2 linked regions of the Homo sapiens genome follow. The protein of the gene in region 1 purifies or fractionates together with the protein of each later gene. This does not show direct contact. Each region holds a gene or a part of one and is shown in the gene's direction. Other genes may lie near its edges.

Evidence for each region. Proteins that work in one complex are often made in the same cells at the same time.
Region 2: the proteins of TINAG (region 1) and STK40 purify together in Homo sapiens (affinity purification with mass spectrometry; 2 studies listed by BioGRID and IntAct, with this or other methods). This does not show direct contact.

What each region holds. Positions count from the first base shown.
Region 1 is NC_000006.12:54,321,280-54,326,489, forward strand, and holds part of TINAG (tubulointerstitial nephritis antigen), read left to right. Parts: intron 1-17; coding exon 18-107; intron 108-5,210. UniProt on the Homo sapiens protein: Mediates adhesion of proximal tubule epithelial cells via integrins alpha3-beta1 and alphaV-beta3. This is a non catalytic peptidase C1 family protein.
Region 2 is NC_000001.11:36,343,265-36,348,474, reverse strand, and holds part of STK40 (serine/threonine-protein kinase 40), read left to right. Parts: intron 1-4,210; coding exon 4,211-4,355; intron 4,356-4,495; coding exon 4,496-4,615; intron 4,616-5,026; coding exon 5,027-5,111; intron 5,112-5,210. UniProt on the Homo sapiens protein: May be a negative regulator of NF-kappa-B and p53-mediated gene transcription.

The sequences.
Region 1 (5,210 bases):
TTGTCATATCTTTGCAGCACATGCTCAGGACAGCAATGGAAATGTTCCCAGCATGTATGCCTTGTTCGTTCAGAATTAATTGAACAGGTCAATAAAGGAGACTATGGGTGAGAGAAATCTTGCTTTGTATGTTTCTTGACACTGCCATTTACTATGCAGGTTTCAATGTATTGCTTGGTTTCTATAAATGGTCATTGTTTAAAAAGAAAGAGTGGGAGAGAAATAGGAAGGGAGATAGAAAGCATGTAAACCTGGAATGCAAAGGTAAACATTAAATAATTAAAATGATCAAATAATAAATCTACAGCATAGCTGTAAATTATCTAGGAAAGAGCAATGTCGTGGTGTAGGTAAGGGAAGTGGAGGGAAAGCTACTTTGGATAAGTATTTAGGCAAAATCAGGAAGTCAGCAAAATTCATGTATTCATACTAACCATTTCTCCCTCTGCTGCTGCCCTCACCAAGCCAATCACATGCTTAGCTATCATGGGTAGAATCTGACCTTACAAGGATGATATTCAAATAACAAGCCAATCTAAATAATTTCACTGAAATGATGGGTATCTAACCAATGTCACTTACGGTTGAATCAAAAGACAGATTGAGCTACTTTACTTTGCTAGTACACAAAAAGTAGGGATGATTGACACTGAAACATTGGAAATAACTGATGCTCTCATGCAGATTGAAAAATTAGGTGGCGTCTCCATTTACATAGAGGAAATTAAGATGTAGGCACTGGCCCGGCGAGGTGGCTTATGCCTGTAATCCCAGCACTTTGGGAGGCCAAGGTGGGTGGGTGGATCACTTGAGGCCAGGAGTTCAAGACCAGCTTGGACAACTAGTGAGACCCCATCTCTACTAAAAATACAGAAAAAATTAGCTGGGCATGGTGGTGCATGCCGATAATCCCAGGTACTCAGGAGGCTGAAGCACAACAACCACTGAAGCCTGGGAGGCGGAGGTTGCAGTGAGCCGAGATTGCGCCACTGCACTCCAGCATGGGAATCGGGGGGTGAAACCCTGTCAAAAAAACAAAACAAAACAAACAAACAAAAAAAAAACAAGAAACATAAAAAGATACAGGCGCCAACACTGGCTTTTATTATAGAACTAAAAGGAAGAGGAACAAGCCAGCTGGTATCTGCTTCAGGATTTCTCCACTGCCATTGAACGAATCTCGATATACCCTTGATAACATCTTCTACATTTCTGGAAAAGATTTCACATAAAAAGATCTATTATCAAGCAATTAGAAAAGTGAAATAATCTGGAGAAGTATTTTTATAAAATGGAAGTGTAATCTCCTTCCACATATAACATGTTGTTTCCCAGCATAATGGGGACACTAAATTTCAATGTATTCAAAGTTTTTTCTTGGAACATACAAAACATAGAAAGTCACATTTGTTGATATTAATATCCTTAAACCATTCTCAGTTCCTCTGTGTGTTTGTGAGTGTGTGTGTTTGTGTTAAACCAATATTTTAGAAGATAACTTGATGACATCTTCAGTATTTCCAGGGAAAACCAATTATAATTTTCTGTGGCAAATCATATTTAAATTATTCAAAGAAGATGAGAGTATATGTCATCTTGAGAAATTGAATCAGATTCCTAAAAGGGTTCAAATGCTAGACCTAATTAACATACATTCCTAGCTTTCCACTGTTAACAAGTACATGAGAAACTATAGTCTAAACCAATGTGGTACACCTAAGAATACACACTTAGGAGCACAGAGGTTGTTGGGAATGCTATTAGGTTGGTGCAAAACTCCACCATTACTTTTGCACCAACCTAATATCTTCCTTGGAAGGAGGAACTTTCTTTCCATGATTTATTTATTTTGAGCATGCCCTACGGCTGCTTAAGAGGCATGGGCTTTGCATTTTAGTAGCAAATATTAAAACATCACATAACTTTAAAAGAGTAGAAAGTGAAGTATAATTGGAGCAAAAGGAAACATATAAAAACCAAAGGAAAAAAGTTAAGTAAAAGGAGCAAGCTATAAAGACAAGAAATAAAACTAAAATTATTTACCAGGGCAAAAAAGGGGGGAAGTCTTTAAATTTAAAAGAAAGTTCTAATTCTCAGCTATTCTCTCTTCATTATGCTCAAATTGTTTTTATGTGTAAAAATATAACCATATTATATCATTCAATATTTATTAAGTGCTTTTTAAAATAGCCTACATCAAATATGCAATCTTTGGTTTAAAATATTTCTTTCCCACATCTTGACAGTATTTTAGATCCAAGTCTTTATTTATTCTATGTAATGTACTTCAGTGCTTATTTATTCTCTGTATTATTTTTTAATGTAATCAGTTGATATTAATAAAACATATGTTCCACTGATGGCATGGCTGAGGATACAAATAAATCATTTTGGCCTGGCGAAGTGGCTTATGCCTGTAATCCCAGCACTTTGGGAGGCCAAGACGAGCAGATCATTTGAGGTCAGGAGTTTGAGACCAGCCTGGCCAACATGGTGAAACCCCATCTCTACCAGAAATACAAAAATTATCCAGGTGTGCTGGCACAGGTCTGTAGTCCCAGCTACTCGTTAGGTTGATGCACTAGAATTGCTTGAACCCAGGAGGTGAAGGTTGCAGTGAGCTGAGATCACACCACTGCACTCCAGCCTGGGCCACAGAGTGAGATTCTGTCTCAAACAAAACAAAAAAACAAATAATTTTTATGTTAAGGGAATTTACCATCTAGTTGAGGAGCCAACACTATCATATCTTTATAAAAGGATTTCTAATAATAGGGGAGAATAGAAGCTGTAAATTAGTGGCACAAGTAATAATCAGCAAGTTAGTGGAATAAAGGGAGATATATAAGTGTTTCAATTAACTGCTGCTGTATAACAAACCATTCCAGGATTCAGCATTTTAAAACGATAAGCTTTTCATCTTTTCACATCAGCAATTTGGAATAGGTTCAACTGAGGCTCTTTTGCTGCTCTCTTTTGGAATTACTCCTGTGTCAACAGAGCCTCAACTGAGGCTGAATTGTCTGTGATGGCCTTACTCTATGTCTTGTGGTTGGTGCAGGATGTTAATTGGGCCATGTTTCTCCAGCAGGCTAGCTTTGGCTTCTTCTCATAATTATTATTCTAATGGGGCATACGTGGAAGTTGCCCCAGTCCTCCCTTAAAGCTTATGCTTGAAAGTTTCATGATATCAATTCTACCACTTTCTATTGGGTAAAGCAAGTTACTAGGCCAGCTTACATTCAAAGGCTAGTGAAATAGATTCTTTCTTATGAACTCAAAATTTGGTCTACTGGATAAGTGGCTTTCATTTTTCACTGTTTTCTCAAAACCAGCTCACCCCAAACTGCAGTGATTAACTTCTACCTATTCTTAGTCACTGGCATCTTGCTCTATCTGCTCAACTTGAAAATTTGATGTTAGTTTGGTTCTTCCTTCCTTTTACTCTCAGTCAGTAGGTATTGCTAACTCCCACACAAAAAGTTTCTCTTAGATATTTACTTCTTCCATTCTAGACTATATTCTAATGCATTTCTTTATCAAGCCTAGTTTGAAATTACCTGACTTGTTTCTGTTTCCAGAAATTCTCAATGGTACTCCATTGCTTGTGAAACATAAGTATTGTCCTTAGCATAAATAACATGTTGGTCCAAAAGCTTTTTTACTACCTTATCTTTTATACCGTTTTCAGCCCCTGTGTCCCTATCCTCTCTCCTAGTTTAAGCATTTTACTTATCTGTCATTCCCTAAACATGCCACCCAACTTCAAACCTGCATGCTTTGCTCAAGAGTTACTTTTACTTTAAACAAATGCTCTCTTCTTTCATGTCTGGTCACCAAGGTCATTCTCATCCTTCCAGATAGAGAACTAAATTTGCTTTATGTAAAAAATTTGCCAACTCCTTCAGTTGTGTTTGAAGCTTTTGATCATATTTTGATATATTGCTAACAAATGGCACATGCCAAAGTCATTTCTATCTTTGCAGTGTTTCTTAAGGTATGAGCTTCTTAAATGTAGAGAAGTTTATTCATATCTATGTTCTCCGTGTTTATCAGAGAATATGATAGATCAATTAAGAAAGTTCAATAAATGCTAAATTGGATTAAAATGAAACTTATGAGTCCAGGTCAAGAAGGATGTTATAGGTTAGTCATACCTTTCACACTTTTTGAGCATATCTCACAGTAGAACATACATTTTACTTTGTGATCTAGTACACACACACGTGCACAAGCATCAACACACACATACAGACACAGAGAGTTTATTACCTCAGTATTTGTAATAAACTCTACTATTTCCTATTATTTCTCCTATCTTCTATTTTACTTTCTTAAACTATCACCCTGCTCACCAAATTGAGTGCTGAATTAAATAACCTATGAATGTCTCTGACCTGATGTTTGAAAACTACTAACATAGGGCAACAAAAACATACTTACTGATGTCACAGTTTTGCCCAATTTTGCCCAGTTAGCCTTTTGAATTATACTACAATATCTCTTATATTCAGAGGTTCCCTTATTGAGATTGCACTTTAAATTGTAACCAAGTTTCTAAAGATTTTATGAACTAACAGATCTTGTACAAATTAAAAGCATTAACTTGTGAGGTATATTATTAAAAATTAAGTTGTGTTTTCAATGATTCATAAGAGCCTATCACATTATAAACGATTTTGGTGATAAACATAGCAGGACAGGGTTTAAATTTGATGTGAGTACTGAAAATATATTGACCTAAAGTGGTAGATAATTCAGAATAGGCAATGATTAAATTACTTGCATCTTTCTAATTTTTTATCCACTATCATCTAGTAAAAAATTTTGTTTGTCTTCAAATTTCAATATTAAATTTTGAAGAGAATTTTTTTTCTAATTAAGGGCACAAAATATGTCTCTACAAAAATATGCACTTTCACATCAACTGATTTTTTATTATTATTAATAACTAAGATGATTGAGCACTTAAAACAAATGAACTCATTTAATATATAATAGAATATTTCAATATCTGATTAATTAGATTTTTAATTAATTTTTAAAAATCTGATGTCATTTTTAAAAATTATACCTATTTTATCCTTCATTTTTCATGCATACTTTTTTACCTTGTCAATTTCTTTTCAAATCTAAATTTTAAAGAAAATGTATTAACCTATTTAATGTATAAGTGCATTTCTGTATATTTAAGCTTCTTTCTAAGATGC
Region 2 (5,210 bases), on another chromosome or scaffold:
GGAACGGGATTGCTGTGAGAGTGGATGAAGGGTGCTTGGAGGACTTTCCCCACAAGGTGTGACAGTTGAGCTATGATCTTAAGGGAAACTAGGAATTCCCTGGGTATGTGTGACTAGGCTGAGGCTGAGGGTCCCAGAGGCAGCACAGCACGTTGGAGCAATTGCAGGCTGCTCAGAAAGTGAGCCTGGTTCAAGGGGAAGCCAGAGAGGTGCGCAGGGGCCAGATCAGGCAAGGCCTGACATAGGCCTCAGTAAGAGATGTCATCCTTTACTTCAAGTGCGAGTGGAAGCCATTGAACAGTTCTTAACTGAGTGTGCTGCTGTGAGTTTGTGTTTCAGAGCCCTCTCTCCTTGTCTGTGTTCATTCATTCTGTTACTGTTTGCTGAGGGCCACCCAGGCCCAAAGCTCTGTTCTAGACACTTTGGAGACAACAGGGAACAAAGTAGACAAACATTGCTGCCTTCATGGAGCTGACTTTCTAGTGGGGATGAGACAGATAATACACGAAACAAATAAGTAACTCACAGGCCGGGTGCAGTGGCTCATGCCTGTAATCCCAACACTTTGGGAGGCTGTGGCGGGATCATAAGGTCAGGAGTTCGAGACCAGCCTGGCCAATATGGTGAAACCCTGTCTCTACTAAAAATACAGAAATTAGCCGGGCGTGGTGGCGGTTGCCTGTAATCCAAGCTACTCAGGAGGCTAAGGCAGGAGAATCGCTTGAACCCAGGAGGTGGAGGTTGCAGTGAGCCGAGATTGTGCCACTGCACTCCAGCCTGGGCAACAGAGCGAGACTCCATCTCAAAAAAAAAAAAAGAAAAAAAAAAACTCATAAAGTTACTGCCCACTGATCTGATTTCCAAGTTCCAGACACTGTGCTGAGCGTGACTCGCGTTATCTGTTTAAACCACACAGCTACCCTGTGAGGCCAATATCTATCTTAAGTCCTTTTTTCACAGATGAGGAAATTGAGGCTCAGAGAGATGACATCTCTTGTCCAAAGTCGTAGCTAATAAATAGTAAACTGGAAAATGGAGGCGCAGCCCCAGGGCTGCCTCCCACTAAAGCCCATTCTCGCAACTCTTTCACTGTCGACTCTGTTGCTTTCTCTTTCCCCCTTGTCCTTGGCCCAAATCCTTTAGGGAACCGGGGCTTACACCAGCTCCCATCCCTCCAACATGGAGAACTTGGGGTTGTCTCCAAGATCCTTCATCCCCACCCCACACATGAGTGCGCCCTTTCCGTGCAGTGGCCGAGCCAGCCTCGTCCCAGCTCTTCACACACATCCTGGTGAGCAGGCTGCTGTAATACAAGCACTTACAACTCCCTCGGAGGCTCCCCCAGCTGCCGCTTCTGCTGGAGAGCCAGGCCTGTCCCCAGGGCTGCCCGTGTGCAAAGACAGTAGCACCATTCCCCAGACCTGGGGGTTTTGGTTAGAGTCACTACAGCCTCTGCTAGAGGGAACTGGGTGCCAGGGGTATACCCTAACTCCTGGGGCACCACCCCCATGGCCCAGCACAGTCTGGCACCCTCTACAGTAATCCCCAAAGCATCCCCATAGGAGATAGAGCCAGGCTCCTCCTTCCACCCAGCCTGTGAGTGGGGCTGTGCCTGTTTGCAGGGCTCAGGCTGTGGGCTAGCCCTGGATGGGACTCCTCTCTTGCAGCACCAGCCTAGAGTGGCCTTCATTTGCAGTCTGAGGCTCTGTGGCCCTCCCTGCTGTTGCCAGCAGCCTATCCTTCTGGTTCTTCCAGACTCGTGCCAGTCTTGGAGGATGAAACAAAGGAATCTGACTGAATCAGAGAGAATCCTCGACTGGGAGACCAGAGACCTGGGTTCTCATTCTGGCCTTGCTGTTGAACCAGCTGTGTGATCACGGCCTCCAATCTCCTTCTGACTTCAGCCTCCTCCCTCCTGGGTTAGAAGCTGAAGTACCAGCCCTACCATGTGGGTTTCCGACCCAGGTCTGCCCTTTCATTTATTCTCCATGTGCCCAGCATGGGCATGGGGCATGGAGCTGTGAAAAGGCAGGCCTGGTCTGGCCCTCATGGAGGTGATAGTCTGGCTAATAACCATGTGAATTTGGGGGAAGTTACAGACCTCTCTGAGCCTCCATTTTCTCATCTGTAAAATAGGGATGGCAGTAGTAGTACTTGAGGGATTAAATAATGCCCTTAACCAGCCAGGCGCGGTGGCTCATGCCTGTAATCCCAACATTTTGGGAGGCCGAGGCGGGCAAATCACGAGGTCAGGAGATCGAGACCATCCTCGTTAACTCAGTGAAACCCTGTTTCTACTAAAAATAAAAAAAATTAGCCGGGCGTGGTGGCGGGTGCCTATAGTCCCAGCTACTCGGGAGGCTGAGGCAGGAGAATGGCGTGAACCTGGGAGGCGGAGCTTGCAGTGAGCCGAGATCTCACCACTGCACTCCAGCCTGGGCAACAGAGCAAGACTCTGTCTCAGGAAAAAAAAAAAAAAAAAATATATATATATATATATATATATGTAATGCCCTTAACCTAGTGTTTGGCATGATCGTTGCTGAAAGGGAAGCTTGTGGGTACAGTGTCCCCTCAGAAGCCAAAGCCCAGGGAAGGTCGCCTGCCCAGGTCAGGCTCCCAGCGAGTTTGTCTGGGGAGGGGCCATTCATACCTCCAGGTCAGGACAGAGGCTCGGGCTGAGGGAACCCTACACAGGTCCTGGAAGCAGATCCTTCCTGCCTAAGCCAGCAGGACAGCTCAACAGGAAGCATCTTCCAGCCACGGGAGGAGAGGCAGCACCTTTTTTGGAACCATACAGAGCTAAGAATGGTGGTACAAGTAATAGATTCTGTACTGGCAACCCCACTTGGTGGAGCAAGTTCTAGGAAAAGGGGGCTGTCCTTGAGTCAGCCATGGGGTCAGCCACACAGTCACCGCAGCTGCTCTTTGGCACCGGGCGCTGGAAAGAGCCTAGGATGACACAGCCTGGAAAGAGCTTGGGAGAAGCTCATCTTCCACAGAACTACCTGCTATACCAGCCAGGGCAGGTGCTTATTCCCCACAACAGCCCTCTGTTGTAGGCGGCAGTGCCATCCTGAAGGTGCCGTGGTACCTTCTGAAGACGCAGGCTGAGGCCTGTAATGGCACTGCCATGCACACATGGCACACCCTCTCCCGGTTAAACTGCTTGCCCTTCACTGGGCCCTGGTTGCCCAGGGAGGTGACGCTAGGGTGCCTGGCAGCGTCTCTTCCACACCCACGGAGAACGGAGTTGTGTTCTGGGGTCCAGGCTGCCACAGCCTGCTGGTATACCAGAGGGTGCATCGCAGGGAGTGGGCAGGGCCAAGAGCTTTCAAATGCTCCAGTGGTCTTCATATTTTGCATTTGGGGGAGTGGGTCAGACAATGGCTGTATTGCTGCTGGGTGGGTGGACAGGTTGCCCTGAAAGGAGGCAAGCAGCAGAGCCTGACAGTCAGATGTGGGCCCACTGAGCAGCCATGTGGCCCTGGACAGAGCAGATCACTGGGCCTCAGTGTCCTCAAGCTGTGGAGCACAGTTAGTGAAATAAAAGTGTTTCTTCCCATGCTGTCCTAAAGCGGGTGCTCCGTTAGATGCCTGCTCCTTTTCGCTTTACAGATGAGGAAACTCTCACAGAGAGGTGAATTAAGTGGCCATCCTTCATTTAGCAAATACTTGGGTCCGTGCTGGGCACTGGGGCTCAGCAGTGAACACCGCAGGGAGGCACCTGCACCTGAGAACTTCCCTTCTAGAGGGGAGACGGGGAGTCACAAGTAGACAAAGGAGGGGACCTGCAAGTAGTCATCCGGGCTGTGAAGGAGGCAGGTGGGGTGTGGGGACGGTGACAGGAGGAGCGGCCAGCTCATCTGGAGCCAGCTAGTTATCTGCTGTGCCAGTGTTCTTGACCCCCTGCTTGTGAGCTGCTGTGCTGGGTGCTGGGGCTGCAGACCCATGCCTGGCTCCCAGGGGCTCGCCATCTGGCCGGGCGGGGCAGGTGCTGTGAGCAGGTGCTGAGTGAGCCCTCTCCTTGGGGCAGGAGAGGTGCATCCTGAGGAACAGGGGAGCGGGGAGCACGGGCAGGAGCTCAGAGGACGACTCTGGGGGGACTGGAAGTGAGGGTGGCAGGTGGAGGGTCCCAGGTGGGATTCCAGGCTGGTGAGCCACGGTGGTGCTGTGGCCTGAAGACAGTGTGGTATGTGTGTGCCCGTAGGCCGGCCGTACCGTGGCAAGCCCAGTGACATGTGGGCCCTGGGCGTGGTGCTCTTCACCATGCTGTATGGCCAGTTCCCCTTCTACGACAGCATCCCGCAGGAGCTCTTCCGCAAGATCAAGGCTGCCGAGTATACCATTCCTGAGTGAGTCCTGCCTCCCGGGGGGTGGGGGGGGCAGCCAGCCTGATGGGCTTAAGGCAGGGAAACGGCACAGTGAGCCTGGGCATCCTGGCCACAGACCCAGCACCACCCACTGAGCCCTCCTCCCCAACTCCCTGCCTCAGGGATGGACGGGTTTCTGAGAACACCGTGTGTCTCATCCGGAAGCTGCTGGTCCTTGACCCCCAGCAGCGCCTGGCCGCCGCCGACGTCCTGGAGGCCCTCAGTGCCATCATTGCATCATGGTAAGTGGACAGGCACTTGACCGGGCACAAGGCTGCGTCCTCAGGGCCTCTGCCCATCCTACCCAGAAAAGCAGCCAGTAGTCAGCCTGCTTCTCTGCCAGTTAGAGTCAGATTTCCAGATTCTCTGCATGGACAAGATTGGGAGGGCATAGGCAGAACTGAAGGTTGAGCAACTATGGGCTGCCATAGTTACCCAGGCCCTGCCAGCGGGGCATGGGCATTGCCTCACTGAGTTCTCACCACCACCTGTAAGGGAGAAATTGTCCCCCTTTATGGGATAAGAAAACTGAGGCTCAGAGAAGCAGTCTCTCATGGCAGGAACACAACCCAGGTGTGTCTGACTCCAGTTAAGTCTGGGATCAATGGACCTGGTCTCTCTGGGGCCAGCCTGACCTGTCTGCCTCCCTGCAGGCAGTCCCTGTCATCTCTGAGTGGGCCTTTGCAAGTGGTTCCTGACATTGATGACCAAATGAGCAATGCGGATAGCTCCCAGGAGGTGAGTTGGGGAGGGCAGATGGGCCATTACCCAGCCCCAAGGGACAGGCTTCTGGGGGCAGGCAGGGCAAGGGCAGAGGTGGCAGCTACCCGCAGGCCA